Linked DNA regions of Homo sapiens. The protein of the gene in region 2 interacts with the protein of the main gene of each other region in a pairwise test. Each region holds a gene or a part of one and is shown on either strand. Other genes may lie near its edges. The genes, in order: UBE2U and RNF144B.

The links.
Region 1: the proteins of RNF144B (region 2) and UBE2U interact in a two-hybrid assay, tested with the Homo sapiens proteins (2 studies listed by BioGRID and IntAct).

The regions. Positions count from the first base shown.
Region 1 is NC_000001.11:64,199,390-64,206,692, reverse strand, and holds the start of UBE2U (ubiquitin-conjugating enzyme E2 U), read right to left. Parts: upstream 3,071-7,303; 5' UTR 2,643-3,070; coding exon 2,577-2,642; intron 2,153-2,576; exon of another isoform or gene 1,910-2,152; intron 1,055-1,909; coding exon 973-1,054; intron 1-972. UniProt on the Homo sapiens protein: Catalyzes the covalent attachment of ubiquitin to other proteins.
Region 2 is NC_000006.12:18,383,337-18,390,506, reverse strand, and holds the start of RNF144B (E3 ubiquitin-protein ligase RNF144B), read right to left. Parts: upstream 3,158-7,170; 5' UTR 2,877-3,157; intron 1-2,876.

The DNA.
Region 1 (7,303 bases), on a different chromosome or scaffold from region 2:
GAGTTTCTCCCTATGGTTTAGTCTTTCCACAGTTTTATTTTTAAGTAAATTGATTCATAGAGTGCACCGACTCCTCTGGATAGTATAACAGACACTTCACAATCTATTATAATCATACGTTTTCAGTCTCTTTCCCACTAGTCCTTTCCATCTACTACCTTTGTCGCCCTAACATCCACCCCCTCTGTTGTATCTCGTATTGACTGAACTCATGTTCCCAAAATCTGCTACACCCTTTCTTGTCTACAAGTCTTTGCTGTGCTGTTTACTCTGCCCGAATTTCCTTATCCTTCTTCTGAACCTGGCAGATTCTTCAGGACTCAACTCAAATGTGATCTCCTTGGGAAGACATTCCTGACTCCCTCAGGCATAATTAACTAATCCTCTTCCTCTTTAGCATTCTGTTCAAAATCCATAATAATGTATATTTTATTGTAATTATCAGCTGATGTGTTTGTCTCCCCTACCTCACTCAAGGAATCTATCTTATTAATCCATAATTGAAAGAAAACATGAGCATTAAAGTTTATAGTGGCTTAGTGTTCTTGAGATTTTTTGATTTATGAAAATTTGGGGGAAAATCATAAAGGAAAAAATGAGAAGTAACTGTGGGGTTTTGAAGCCAATAGGAATTTTGATAGTTATTCCCTGATCTCACGGAAGGCAGACGATATTCTCTCAATTGATATGCTCTATTGTGTCTGCTTCTTAAAAATGTAATAAAATTAAGATTTGGCATAAAGAAAAATACCCCAAATTTCCATCTATGTTGACACATGGCAAAAAAGTCATAAATAAAAAAAATGGGAATATTTTTAGAATTTTAGACAACTGGTATAATGCAAACTTATGCATATGAAGAAGAATTTCAGGAAATTTATATAATGCGACCTTATCCTACATAAAAAGAGGATGGGCTAATAATGGTATAAAGACTTTTTTAAAAAATAGATTGGTTTTGAAAATACAAACCCTGCCAAACTGAATTCTGTAGACCTTCAATTTCAACTTCCCATTCCATCATATCTTCACTTACAGGCTTAGCAGTGATACCCTTGAAGTTAAAAACAAAATTAAATCAGAAAAAACTTATTAAGTATTTATTGAAGTTTTGAAAATCATATACCAGGTCACACTGAATTCTAAAAACTCTAAATTTTCTTTCCTTGATAAGTTTATTTATTTGCTGCTCTGGGGAAGTGTTACATGTCTTATTTCACGGAAGTTAATATAGATCCCAGAAAACATATGCAATAGTAATTAAAAATAAATCATAAGTGTGGAAATCACAAGTGGGACTAGAGAGTCAAGATTAGAATGTGTGGCTTATATACTGTTTGTGTAAATCAATAACCAATTTAATATTCAAATTTTAAAAGAAAGAAATAGTTGGAAAGTGCATGTTTCTTCAAAACATTTTAGAGCTATATGAATGCTATATGAAAGGCATGAAGTGGGAACATTTTCATTAAGAAAAAATCCAAAATTACACTTGTATATAAAAGCAAAGTTTTCCTATACTTGAGGAGTTGTTCCAATGGAGGGACAAGAATGTATTTCATAGAAAACCTTATGAATTACGTTAAGTAACACACTTACAAACACATAAAAACACTTCTGAGCATCCACATAGTTATTAAGTATGTTAGTGCTTGTCTGGGTGAGCCCTGTCTCTCTATTATCTATATTTACATATTCCTTCATTGGATTCTCTTTCAACAGAGAACTACAGAGCTCAGGATGAGCAGAAACAATATCAAATGTTAGGTCCATGCCCCAGGAATGTTCGCTGTTGGACTCCATAATTGTTCCTAACATCTCCAGTGAATGCAGTACTTTTATAGCAGAGGTAAAAAATGAACAATGCCACTGAACTACACCTGAAGCAACTGTGGGAAGCACTCTATACCTTTCATGGACAGCTTTCTTTCTGTTCTTTCTCTTAAGCACTCCCTCTTCGCCCCCTCTTCCATTTTTCATTTTCCGTAAATCAGCCTGTGGCAGCCATGGACATTGATAACCTCATTGGTGGCGTTTAAGCCCAAGGACATTGCTTCTTTTGTGTTAAAACTATAAAGGGAAGGCATTTATGTGTCATGCTGGTAAAAGTACACTAGACAGTAAGCAGTGGAACACAGGAATTAAGAACTAGGGCTTTGAAGTCCAAAAACCCTGTAATGGAATCATGGGGCAAAATCTTTACAGAATATTTCTGAGGCTTAGGTTTTTGGTAAGTAAAATGAAATACTACTTATTGTATAGTATTATAATTAATGAGCATAAGCCTGCACCTACTAGTCACTAACTACATGACAGACCCTGATATTCAGTGCCTAGATCCACATAAATTACTCTGCATAATATGTTCAATATTGTTAAGCATTATTATTTTGAAGTAATAATAATTGTTATTAATATGAAACACATTACTTCAGTGAAATGGATTTATTAAATAACAATACTGTAGTGGCAAATCAGGTTTAACTAAATTACTACTTATAGAATAAAATGGGTTAAACTGCCTCTTAAAAATTATTGCACAATGAAACACATCTCTCCACGTGCCCAGTACTTACCTTATAATTGTTCTCCTTGAGATCACAGAAGTCTCTGTGCAGCAAGAGGTAAGCTCTGCCGTGCATGATAGGCAGCGGAGGGTCTGACACTTGTCCCCAAATGCCTCAGGTTTACTCTGAGGCAGATGTTTGAAGTTATGGGTCACTTTCCCACACTTAGTAAACTGATATAAGTTACTTGCTTTCTAGAACCTCAGAACGGTACCAAGATAAGCGGCTTCTAAAGTTGGGATATAACAATGACTTTTTCTCCTGACTCCTCTAAACGAGAACTTCCCGAAGGAAGACTTGGGCACTTCCTCATCTGCGGCGTTTCACTGCAGTGCCGGCTCACAGCCCAGTCTCAAGACAAACTTGGATGAGTAACGGAGACAAGCCCATGTCGTCGGCGCGTGAGTGGGAGTGAGAGGTGTACGCCTATCAGGGTCCTAGCAGGTTGTCTTCGCTTCACAGGTGCAACCCCGCAGCCACGCACCGGAGGAAGCAAATCGGTTGCCAACCAACAGGCCCCCGTGGGGCCGCCGAGAGACGGAGGCAGGGGGTTGGCCGCTCTCACCCAATCAGCGACAGGGGGCAGGCCTCTTGCTATCTCCACAGCCAATCCTACAACAGTTTCCCCTTTGAAAGGCCAATGAGATTCGTGGTCAAGGCAACACCACGCCTTCTCAGGCCACGAACATGGACTGTACAAAACTAGTGTAGAGGATGGGGTGAGGTCCCAGGACCCAGCATGTAAGTCACAGAAGCCGTCCCACGAAGTCTTTCTTCGAAATTATCCTTCCTTTTTCTTTGACTATCAAAAGATATAGTAAGTGACTGGTAGGTACAGGTCTGCATAACAATATCTTAACTTACATGGCGAGTTACCATTCACAGTAGTGTGCATGCTATTATGTCATCAAACCCTACAATCACCCTGGGAAAGTGCTCCAGGAACAGGGAACTGCTTAAAATTTCTCTGATTCCCATCTCTTCCCGCACAGTTTCGCACCTGCTGTTCCTTCTACCTAGGAGTTTACCACATTCCTTCCACCCCTTCAGCCCTCATTTCCCCTTCACTCACTCATCCTTCAGATTTTAACGACTCTTTAAGGGATCCTTTCTTTTGTGATCCCACAGGACCTTCTATTTGCCTCCTAGTTAACATTTGCCATACGGCATCACAATTGTCTATTGTCTTCACCAGAGTGGGAACTACTGAAAGACACGGTTCCATTGCCAGCGCCAACTACAAAGCCTGGCATCTTTGTTCAGAATACTTTCTTTTTTTACTTTTTACTTACTAATTTTATAGAATCCGGATGTTCATTTAGTCCATTCATTTTACAAATATTTATTAAATACTTTTTTTTTACTTGAAAGATTCAAATGAAGTAAATGTCTTTATGGCTCCAATATACAATAAACAAGTATGCAAAACAAAAATCATGATTTCAGATGGTGATAAACGTTATGTGGACAATAATAAAACAGTACCATGATAGAGATTGGGGTAGGTCATTAAGGATTAGAAATGGTAGTCAGGAAATGCCTCTGTAAGGAATGGGGTTTTGAACTCATACATGAAAGATGAGAAGGAGCCTGCTACATGAAATATTGAGGGCAGAGAGTTCTAGGAAGAGGAAAACAAGATATTTTTGAGTCAGGAAAGAGCTTGTCTTGAAAAGGGAACAAGGGAAGGTCAGGGAGGTTGTGGAGGAGCCTGGGAGGGGTGTGATAAAGATGGGCACTATACAGTAGGAAGTTTGGGCTTTATTTGAATAGCTATGGGAATCCATTTAATGGGTTTAAACAGGAGAGTGTCATGCTCTGATTTATTTATTTATTTATTTATTTATTTATTTATTTTATTGATCATTCTTGGGTGTTTCTCGCAGAGGGGGATTTGGCAGGGTCATAGGACAATAGTGGAGGGAAGGTCAGCAGATAAACAAGTGAACAAAGGTCTCTGGTTTTCCTAGGCAGAGGACCCTGTGGCCTTCCGCAGTGTTTGTGTCCCTGGGTACTTAAGATTAGGGAGTGGTGATGACTCTTAACGAGCATGCTGCCTTCAAGCATCTGTTTAACAAAGCACATCTTGCACCGCCCTTAATCCATTTAACCCTGAGTGGACACAGCACATGTTTCAGAGAGCACAGGGTTGGGGGTAAGGTCACAGATCAACAGGATCCCAAGGCAAAAGAATTTTTCTTAGTACAGAACAAAATGAAAAGTCTCCCATGTCTACTTCTATCCACACAGACCCGGCAACCATCCGATTTCTCAATTTTTTCCCCACCCTTCCCGCCTTTCTATTCCACAAAACCGCCATTGTCATCATGGCCCGTTCTCAATGAGCCGCTGGGCACACCTCCCAGACGGGGTCGTGGCCGGGCAGAGGGGCTCCTCACTTCCCAGTAGGGGCGGCCGGGCAGAAGCGCCCCTCACCTCCCGGACGGGGCGGCTGGCCGGGCAGGGGGCTGACCCCCTCTCCCCCCTCCCGGACGGGGCGGCTGGCCGGGCGGGGGGCTGACCCCCCCACCTCCCTCCCGGACGGGGCGGCTGGCCGGGCAGAGGGGCTCCTCACTTCCCAGTAGGGGCGGCCGGGCAGAGGCGCCCCTCACCTCCCGGACGGGGCAGCTGGCCAGGCGGGGGGCTGACCCCCCCACCTCCCTCCCGGACGGGGCGGCTGTCTGGGCGGGGGGCTGACCCCCCCACCTCCCTCCTGGACGGGGCGACTGGCCGGGCAGAGGGGCTCCTCACTTCCCAGAGGGGGCGGCTGGCCGGGCGGGGGGCTGACCCCCCCCACCTCCCTCCCGGACGGGGTGGCTGCCGGGCGGAGACGCTCCTCACTTCCCAGACGGGGTGGCTGCCGGACGGAGGGGCTCCTCACTTCTCAGACGGGGCGGTTGCCAGGCAGAGGGTTTCCTCACTTCTCAGACGGGGCGGCCGGGCAGAGACGCTCCTCACCTCCCAGACAGGGCGGCGGGGCAGAGGTGCTCCCCACATCTCAGATGATGGGCGGCCGGGCAGAGACGCTCCTCACTTCCTAGATGGGATGGCGGCCGGGAAGAGGCGCTCCTCACTTCCTAGATGGGATGGCGGCGGGGAAAAGGCGCTCCTCGCTTCCTAGATGGGATGGCGGCCGGGCAGAGACGCTCCTCACTTTCCAGACTGGGCAGCCAGGCAGAGGGGCTCCTCACATCCCAGACGATGGGCGGCCAAGCAGAGACGCTCCTCACTTCCCAGACGGGGTGGCGGCCGGGCAGAGGCTGCAATCTCGGCTCTTTGGGAGGCCAAGGCAGGCGGCTGGGAGGTGGTTGTAGCGAGCCGAGATCACGCCACTGCACTCCAGCCTGGGCACCATTGAGCACTGAGTGAACGAGACTCCGTCTGCAATCCCGGCACCTCGGGAGGCCGAGGCTGGCGGATCACTCGCGGTTAGGAGCTGGAGACCAGCCCGGCCAACACAGCGAAACCCCGTCTCCACCAAAAAAATACGAAAACCAGTCAGGCGTGGCGGCGCGCGCCTGCAATCGCAGGCACTCGGCAGGCTGAGGCAGGAGAATCAGGCAGGGAGGTTGCAGTGAGCCGAGATGGCAGCAGTACAGTCCAGCTTTGGCTTGGCATCAGAGGGAGACCGTGGAAGGAGACCGTGGAGAGAGGGAGAGGGAGAGGGAGAGGGAGAGGGAGAGGGAGAGGGAGAGGGAGAGGGAGAGCATGCTCTGATTTATATTTACTTGATTACTCTGGCTGCTCTACGAAGAATGAATTGTTGGGGGGGACCACTTGGAAGGATCCCACAGTAAATTTCACCTCCAGGTATGGTAGCTTAGAAATCACCAACAACATATTCACTGTACTAAAATGCTGACACAATAAAATGCTATTATTCTATGTTTCCTAAAACTAAATAGAAAGGATTTTTTTCCTGTGAAAACATCAACAGGATCTGGGATTGAATATTTTGGCCCTTCTTTCCAGCCCATCAGATTTCAACATGGGCTTGCATAGGATTGGAAATATCAGGTGAAAGTGAGTAAAGGGCTACTTCAGTGAGAAGGGAATAGGCCCAATTTGGAGATCGTAACTAGGTTTGTCCATATCACTGTGGTCCCACAATCCTTTCTCCCACCCTAATGGATTATTGTGATAATGAATTCAGAATCTTTTGTATTTAAAAAATATATTTATTTATTTATCATGGAAAACATGATATTTTGAAATATGTATATGTTATGGAACGGCTAAATTGAGCTAATTAACATAAGCATTACCTCATATGTTGAGGAAACCTAAAATCTATTCTTATCTATTTTCAAAGATACAACATATTTTTATTAACTGTAGTCATCATGTCATACAATAAGAATCCTCCATCTTTTGTTTAGAATTTCATTCTAGGGAAAATTTTGTTAAAGTAAAAGAAAGATAAAAGTAAGTAAGGTAAAAGAAAATTAAGGTAAAGAAAAACATTTTTTGTTGTGAATTTTTAGAAGATGGCATTTATATGATACTTTAGCACAATGAAAATCAAGTTGGAAGATATTCATATGACTCCCCCCACAACAAACCTATATTACTAGCTTTGACCTCTTCTTGGGACTTCTGACTAGTATACCTACTAATTTATATCCAAATGCCTGGTTGTCACCCAGCTGTCTTGTCCCAAACACATTTCAAACTCAAATGTCCAAAAATCAACTCATTACTGTTTCTCTCAACCAAGCTTCTGTCCCAGTTGGAAA
Region 2 (7,170 bases):
GTTTTGAATTCAAGAAAGAGATCTGCTCATAGATGAGAAGATCCTCATTCCACGTTGCAGAAGCATTGGTCATTTTTACTCATTTAATATATAGTTATCCATTTTTTAATAACAACTATGGTATGATGCATTAGGTTCCAAAGTACTCACCGACTGGGTAAATAGCAAATGCCAAAGTTAATAAAACTAAAACTTTAGTCCAAGACCTCCCACATACACCTAAAGGTAAAAATTATGAATTAAAATATTTACATAAATTAACTTAGGTGTCATATACCTCTTAATGGTCAAATGGTCAAGGTAACACTACCAAGAAAATTAAGATGATCGAGGTGACAAACATCGAAGTACTTTTTATAATCTGGCAAAGCAATGTGAATTCAGAACTACCACTCTAGACCCAAGTCACTTCTGACCTTATGAGAATTTCTTCCGGACAGAGACCACATCTTAGCCATCTTTATATCCCAGCATCTAACCTAGCACCTAGCAAATCAGTCACTCAGTAGTAGAGTGGATAACTTTTCTGATTGTACTTGGAGGAGAGAAAATATTAAAGGCCTGGTTCTCATCTGTATTCACTTCCAGAAATTCACAAGCTGAAAATATTGACCATTTGTTTCAGGTAAGGAGCTTCTATAAATTAAGGTAGGCACCCCTGAAAGAAATGTTTCAGTACTTAGGAGCAATGGCTACAGATACCTATTCCCCAAAGTCCAAGTGAAAAGCATGACTTGTCTGGCAGCTTGGCCCTTTTCCCACATCCAAAATAATCAGTTGTACAAAGTAGGCTTAGTCCCAAAACTGCTCAGACTTTGTTCCTTCAGTAACATCTGGGTTCAGCATGATTCCTGACCTCTATCTCAAACTGGAGATTTCAAACACTAAAAACTTCACTCTCCAAGAAAGTAATGTCATAAAGTCAAGGCCAGGGGAAACAAAGAAGCCAGGATTAGCAGAAACACTTCGGAGAAAGGATTCTGACATACATATAAATGTTTCTAAACGTCTAAAATATTGAAATGACTTTTCAAGAAGGAAATTTTAAGTGCACCTCCTCAGATGAAAAATATTCATACTACTGAGGAGAAAGACGTTTTTCAGGAAGTTAAATGGTCATACCAGGTAGATAAAATAAGCTTTTTCTTTCCAGAGAGAGCATACTCTTCTCTCTGCTGTAGAGTTTGGCTCCAAAAACCTGGTTCATAATCTGAGACCCAAAAACTGATTATTTTAAAAAGACATGTCTTAAGCTGACCTAGTTTGGAAGCCTGAATGCCTTTAAATTGCCAATGAACTGAAACCATTCATGAGAATGGGCCTTTTGAATGCTGAGAATGTTCTTTGGGACTCAGCACAAAGATATTTGGCATAGATGACTGTAAATATTTGTAAAACTCTGGGTAAATGGGCAGGATTTGACCACACTCAAGCCCGACTTCCAGCACAGTAGTGTAGGAGAAAGTTATCTAGGGTGATTGTTTGGGGTTTTGGGGGGTTTTTTTGGTTGAGTTTTGTTTGTTTTAAATAAAAAGCCAAGCAACCCAATTCTACTACTCAACATCTTTTTCACGTTCACTATATATGTTTACCTTTTTTTAATCAAGATAATTAATTAGTCAGAGACTACTTTTGAAACTGAGGTTTTTCCCTTTCCCACTTTTCTAAGTTTATGCCCACGACAAAAATAAAAAAAAAAATGCCAGTCAAAGGTGTGCAAGGGCAGAGCAGGAGTTGTGTGAAACCATGACCTTGGATTTCATAATACAATTATCTACAAGTGGCTTTGTGGATCTGCTATAGGTTTTTCTCCCCCTCAGGATAGTTTTAGAAGTATTTAAGGCACTGCTGTCCATGAAAAGGACCCAGGTTGTGAAGGAAAGATAAACTAAGGAGAAGGAGGGACTCACAGAGGGATTTGATGTGAAAGGGACCAAGAGGCTCATTTCAGTGAAAGCTGCGGCAGACAGATACTCTAATTAGCCAGCAACTCAGTTAGGACTGGCTAGGTTCCTTTTGCCTCTTACCCACACCCTAAAAACTGAGTCATCCCAAAGTTCATTTATTTTGCTTCTGGGCACAGACACCCCCTAATCTGCTTCCTCAGAAATGTTAGATACATTGCCATTTAATTTATACCTCTCAATGTTCAAATAAACGTCCAGAAATGCCAAATCGGAAGAGCAGAGATAGTCCTGTTAAGAACCTCAGAGCTAATGTTTTGATAAGATACATGTGGCAGAAAGCAATATGAAACTGACAGTCTGTTATGAGAACATGAAAAAAGAACATTTCCCAGAGAAGGGAATTAATTTCTGGGAAATCTTTATGTGAATAGTGTATATGCATGAGGAGTAGACTTACAGCAGGATCCTTGAAACTCATGAGAAAAACAAAAGGTGTTTTAGAAAGAATAAGCAAAAGATACCTACCTTTTCCCTGCACAAACGACAATCAGTTCGATTTTAACTTAAATTTGAGAATGGCTCTCGTAGTATCAGAGTTTCACTGTTTCATTAGCAATTACCTGATAAAATAAGCACTATAATGCATAATCCGAGATTATGCCAACTTTTGGTCTCCCCTTAAGACCTAGGGAGAGGTCTGGTCTAATCTCGGATTCTACAATACATTCTATTATAGAAACTGTTTTATTAGAAATGAAACTACTTTCCTTTAACAAAGGCATTTTTCTTCTAAGTTAACAGGTGTTTAAGGCATTCAGAATGAATTCAGTTCTGTATGGTTTGAGCACTAGAGACAGAAAATCGAAAAATTGTGGTGTCACAGTGAGTTTCCTGTCCTTTTTCCTTAGTCCAGCAACACCATTCCGGTCTTGCAACGCCTGTAGCCTTTAAAAAGCTCGCTAAACCTACCTGGCAGCAGACCTGCGTTCCTCCGTCGCCGGGCTTCTCAGTAGCCTCCCTCGCGCTCACCGCCAGTCCGGGCTGCTGGCACACCGGACAGGAGCTCTTCCATTCTCTCCGTCTTTCCTCCGTGCTCTGCGGCTGACAGCTTTACACTTTGCAAGACTGCAACAGGACTTGCGCTCCCAGACCTACGGGTCGGGAGGAGGCGGAGTCCCCGACCGCCTCCTAGCCTTGACTGGCAGCTGCGATGCCCGGGACTGTTGCAGCGGGAGCGTGGGGCACAGCTCGCCAGCAGCGGTAGCAGCGCGTTTATTTATACAGGAAGCTCAGGCGCCGCACTTCCTACTTCCCATGTGGGTCGTACTTCAGCTGCAGGTGTTGGCCTTAACCCTATCCGAACCCGGGCGCGCTGCACCGACTCTACTGCTTGTCAGGACCTGTCTCTTGTTCTCCTGGGACCGCTGTTGCAGGAATTCAGAGCAGGGGGTGCAGGCAGCTGCCCCTAGCGCACTTCTTCTGCCCAGACAGGGACAGCTCACCTCTTGGCCTTAAGCGCCTGCTACCTCTCTGTCTGTACATATCCTCACAGGCCACCTTTCTTTATTTTCTCCCTCCTTCCCAGCTCTTTAAATCTCTTTCTTCTACTTCTAACAGCCCAGACCTGCCTTCCCACGTGGCAGACAACTGTTTTATAGAAACACTTCCCATGCACATCTCATCAAAAAACAGCTTGTACCTCACTTGTCCTTTTGCATCTAATGATGAAATTAGAATACCTGTGAATCAAATCGGGAATAATCTTAGTTTACCTCATAAAATACAGACACTTCTTGATGAAACAATGATTTCACTTGAAGTGCTTTGTAACTTAACTGGTTGTACCCTCAATTAAACAAAAATGTAACAAAATAATCCAGAAGCTGTGAGGTATTATGAAGTGCTTCCTTGCTCCAAACCCTTGGACACTTCATTTGTGTGACATTCATAATGAATCGCATACCTACTCATTCCCCATATCCCCCATAGATCACAATCACCTAAGTCTGCTGAACATTGCCATTTAGGAATGTCGCTCTGACACAAGAATCTGTGTTCACTCTGCAATCCCTCTCTACTTTTGCAACCACTGTCAGGAATGTGCTTCCTAAAAGGAAGGGACTCACAGGCCCTTTGTGGAAAGGATCTGTGCACGCCAACAGGCACCATTCCAAACGACACAAGCAAACATTGCTTCTCAGCCCTCCAAGTTGAAGAAAACCTCTAGGTCAAAGCAAAGTGCTGAATAACACAGTGTATCTACATGTGCCATGCTAGGGCAGGTAGGAGGACCAGCTCACCAGTCAGGGAGGAAGAGAAAAAGGACAGGGGCAATAAGATGATAAAAGAACCCACGGTAGGATATTTGAGCTTGAAAAGTCTTCCTAGCTATTTTAGCAAATAACCTGATTTTAAAAATAAGGAAACTGGGCTGGGTGCGGTGGCTCACATCTGTAATCCCAACACTTTGAGAGGCCAAGGCGGGCAGATCATCTGGGGTCAGGAGTTCAAGACCAGCCTGGCCAACATGGTGAAACCCCGTCTCTACTAAAAATACAAAAAATTAGCTGGGCGTGGTGGTGGGTGCCTATAATCTCAGCTACTCGAGAGGCTGAGGCAGGTGAATCGCTTGAACCTGGGAGGCAGAGGCTGCAGTGAGCCGAGATTGCGCCATTGCACTCCAGCCTGGGTAACAAGAGCGAAACTCTGTCTCAAAAAAAAAAAAAAAATAAGGAAACTGATGTCCAGGAAGATTTAAGAGATTGGCCCAAACCAGACACAGGCCAAGCTAGAATGAGACCTAAATCTGAGTTACATGAGGAAGGTGAATGTAAATGAAAACCATCCCAAAGGAAGTCCAACCTTCAGATTTAGCAATGGCTTAGGTTCTGAGATAATCTATTTCAAGGAATTTTCTTGGTATAGTGACCATTTTGGTGGACAGGAACTAGGAAAGATAAAAAGCAACCTCTAAGAGGTTAGTTTATTCATTGGTGTTGATGCAAATCTCCTGAGCCTTAAACCAAAGTTCAACACAGAGTCCACTTTTCAAATTACCATTCATAAATTATAATCTCTTGTTAACAGGATAAGGGAAGAAGCTGCTGCCAATATGAATGAGAACATAAGCACGAATAGTGCTGCCTATTATCCCAAATATTTTGCACAACTGAGTAACATCACCACTGATTATTTTCAACCATGCAACTATGCAAATTTTTTTTAAATTGCAGTCAAAATTTAATAAGACTAAATAAACACGTTGAATGCTATAATATTATGTGAACAAACTCTCTCAGATCTTCCTAAGGAGTCTACAGTGTGAATGGATATTCATTCTCTGGAGCATTTATTGATTTCCTCCCAGACAATCTGCTAGGTTGTATTAAGATAATGATATTAGACATGGTCTCCCTGTCCTCAAAGACCTCTCAATCCAGGGAAGGAGTAAGACAAGCAAATCAATTATCAGGGTACTGATAGTTGTACCCAATGTGTGAGTGATACATAATGTGTGATATGATAGACTTAAGCATGATGTGCTATTGGGAGCACAGAGAAGAAGAATTTAAAGGAAAGGAGTTGATGAAAAGAATCAAGTCTTCTCTGAGAAGGTGATTATATTAATCTGTTCTCACATTGCTATAAAGAAATAACTGAAACTGGGTAATTTATAAAGAAAAGAAGTTCAATTGGCTCATGGTTCTGCAGCTGCACAGGAAGCATGGCTGGGGAGCCCTCAGGGAGGTTACAATCATGGTAGAAGGTGAAGGGGAAGCAGGCACGCATGTCTTACGTGACTGGAACAGAAGCAAGGCGGGGTGGGGCAGGGAAATGCCACACATGTTTAAACAACTAGGTCTCTCAAGAACTTATTGTCACAAAAAACAGCACCAGGAGATAGTGCTAAACCATTTATGAGAACTCTGTCCCTATGGTCCAATTACCTCCCACCAGGCCCCACCTCCAACATCGGGGATTACAATTCGACCACGAGATTTGGCTGGGGACACAGATCCAAACCATATCAGTGATTTAAATCTATGTCTTCAAGTAGCCCAATAGGTGTGGTAGAGAAGGGTAAACCAGGCTGAGCAAACAGCTAAAACAAAGGGTTAGACATGAGACTCTAGGTGAAATTTTTCATAATTCAGACAGAGCTGATACATCCAGAATAAATGAATGAGGGTCTGAGCTAATGCAGTGACAACTGCCATGCAAAGGAAGGGAACCAATGGAGAGAGATTTCAGAAACAGAAGTGATGGAACTTGGTATCTGATTGGATGTTATATTAGTCCATTCTCACATTGCTATAAAGAAATACCTGAAACTGGGTAACTTATAAAGAAAAGAGATTTAATTGGCTCACAGTACTGCAGGCTTTATAGGCTTTAAGCATGATGCTGGCATCTGTTTGGCCCTCTGGAGAGGCCTGTCACATGGTCAAAGTAGGTGCAAGAGAGCGTTTCGGGGGGAGGGGGGAGGGAGGCGGTGCTACACACCTTTAAACGACCAGCTCTCACAAGAACTCACTATCCCCAGGACAGTACCTAGGGAGATGGTGCTAAACCATTCGTGAGAAATTTGCCCCCACGATGCAATCACCTCCTACCAGGCCCCACCTCCAACAATGAGGATTACATTTCAATATGAGATTTGGGCAGGGACACACATCAAAACTATATCAGATGCAGGGGGATAAGAGAAAAAGAATAGCCCCAACTGCTGGCACCACTAAGAGGGGGAATAAAAGAGAAGTGATGGTAAGGAAACCATGATAATTCAAATTAAGATCTATAGAATCAGAAGTGCCTCTGGGGCATACTGGAAAAACTGACCAGTAGGCTATCAACAGAGAGAGATCTAGGGTGGAGAGTCATTTGGGAATTGCCATCATTTAGGTGGTGGCCATAGATGAGATTACCAAAAGCTAAGACAACCCACATGCTATAGAGGGAAGCAGAGGATTTGGACCTTGGCAAACTCCACTACCCACTCATTATTATGTAACCTTAATGAAGTTATTTAATATACCCGAAACTCAGTTTTCTCATCTATAAAATAAGAATGATGACATTCATCTCATAGGCTGTTGTGAGGGTAAAAGTGGTTTTTTTAAGTAGCTACCAAAGTGCCTGATACACGGAGATGCCTGCACGATACAAATCTTGATGGGCCAGGGTGGTGGTTGGGGTGGAGGCAGTGACTGGCAGCTCCTGGAATTGTGTACTGCACAACCTGCTCAGCTGTACACCATGGTCC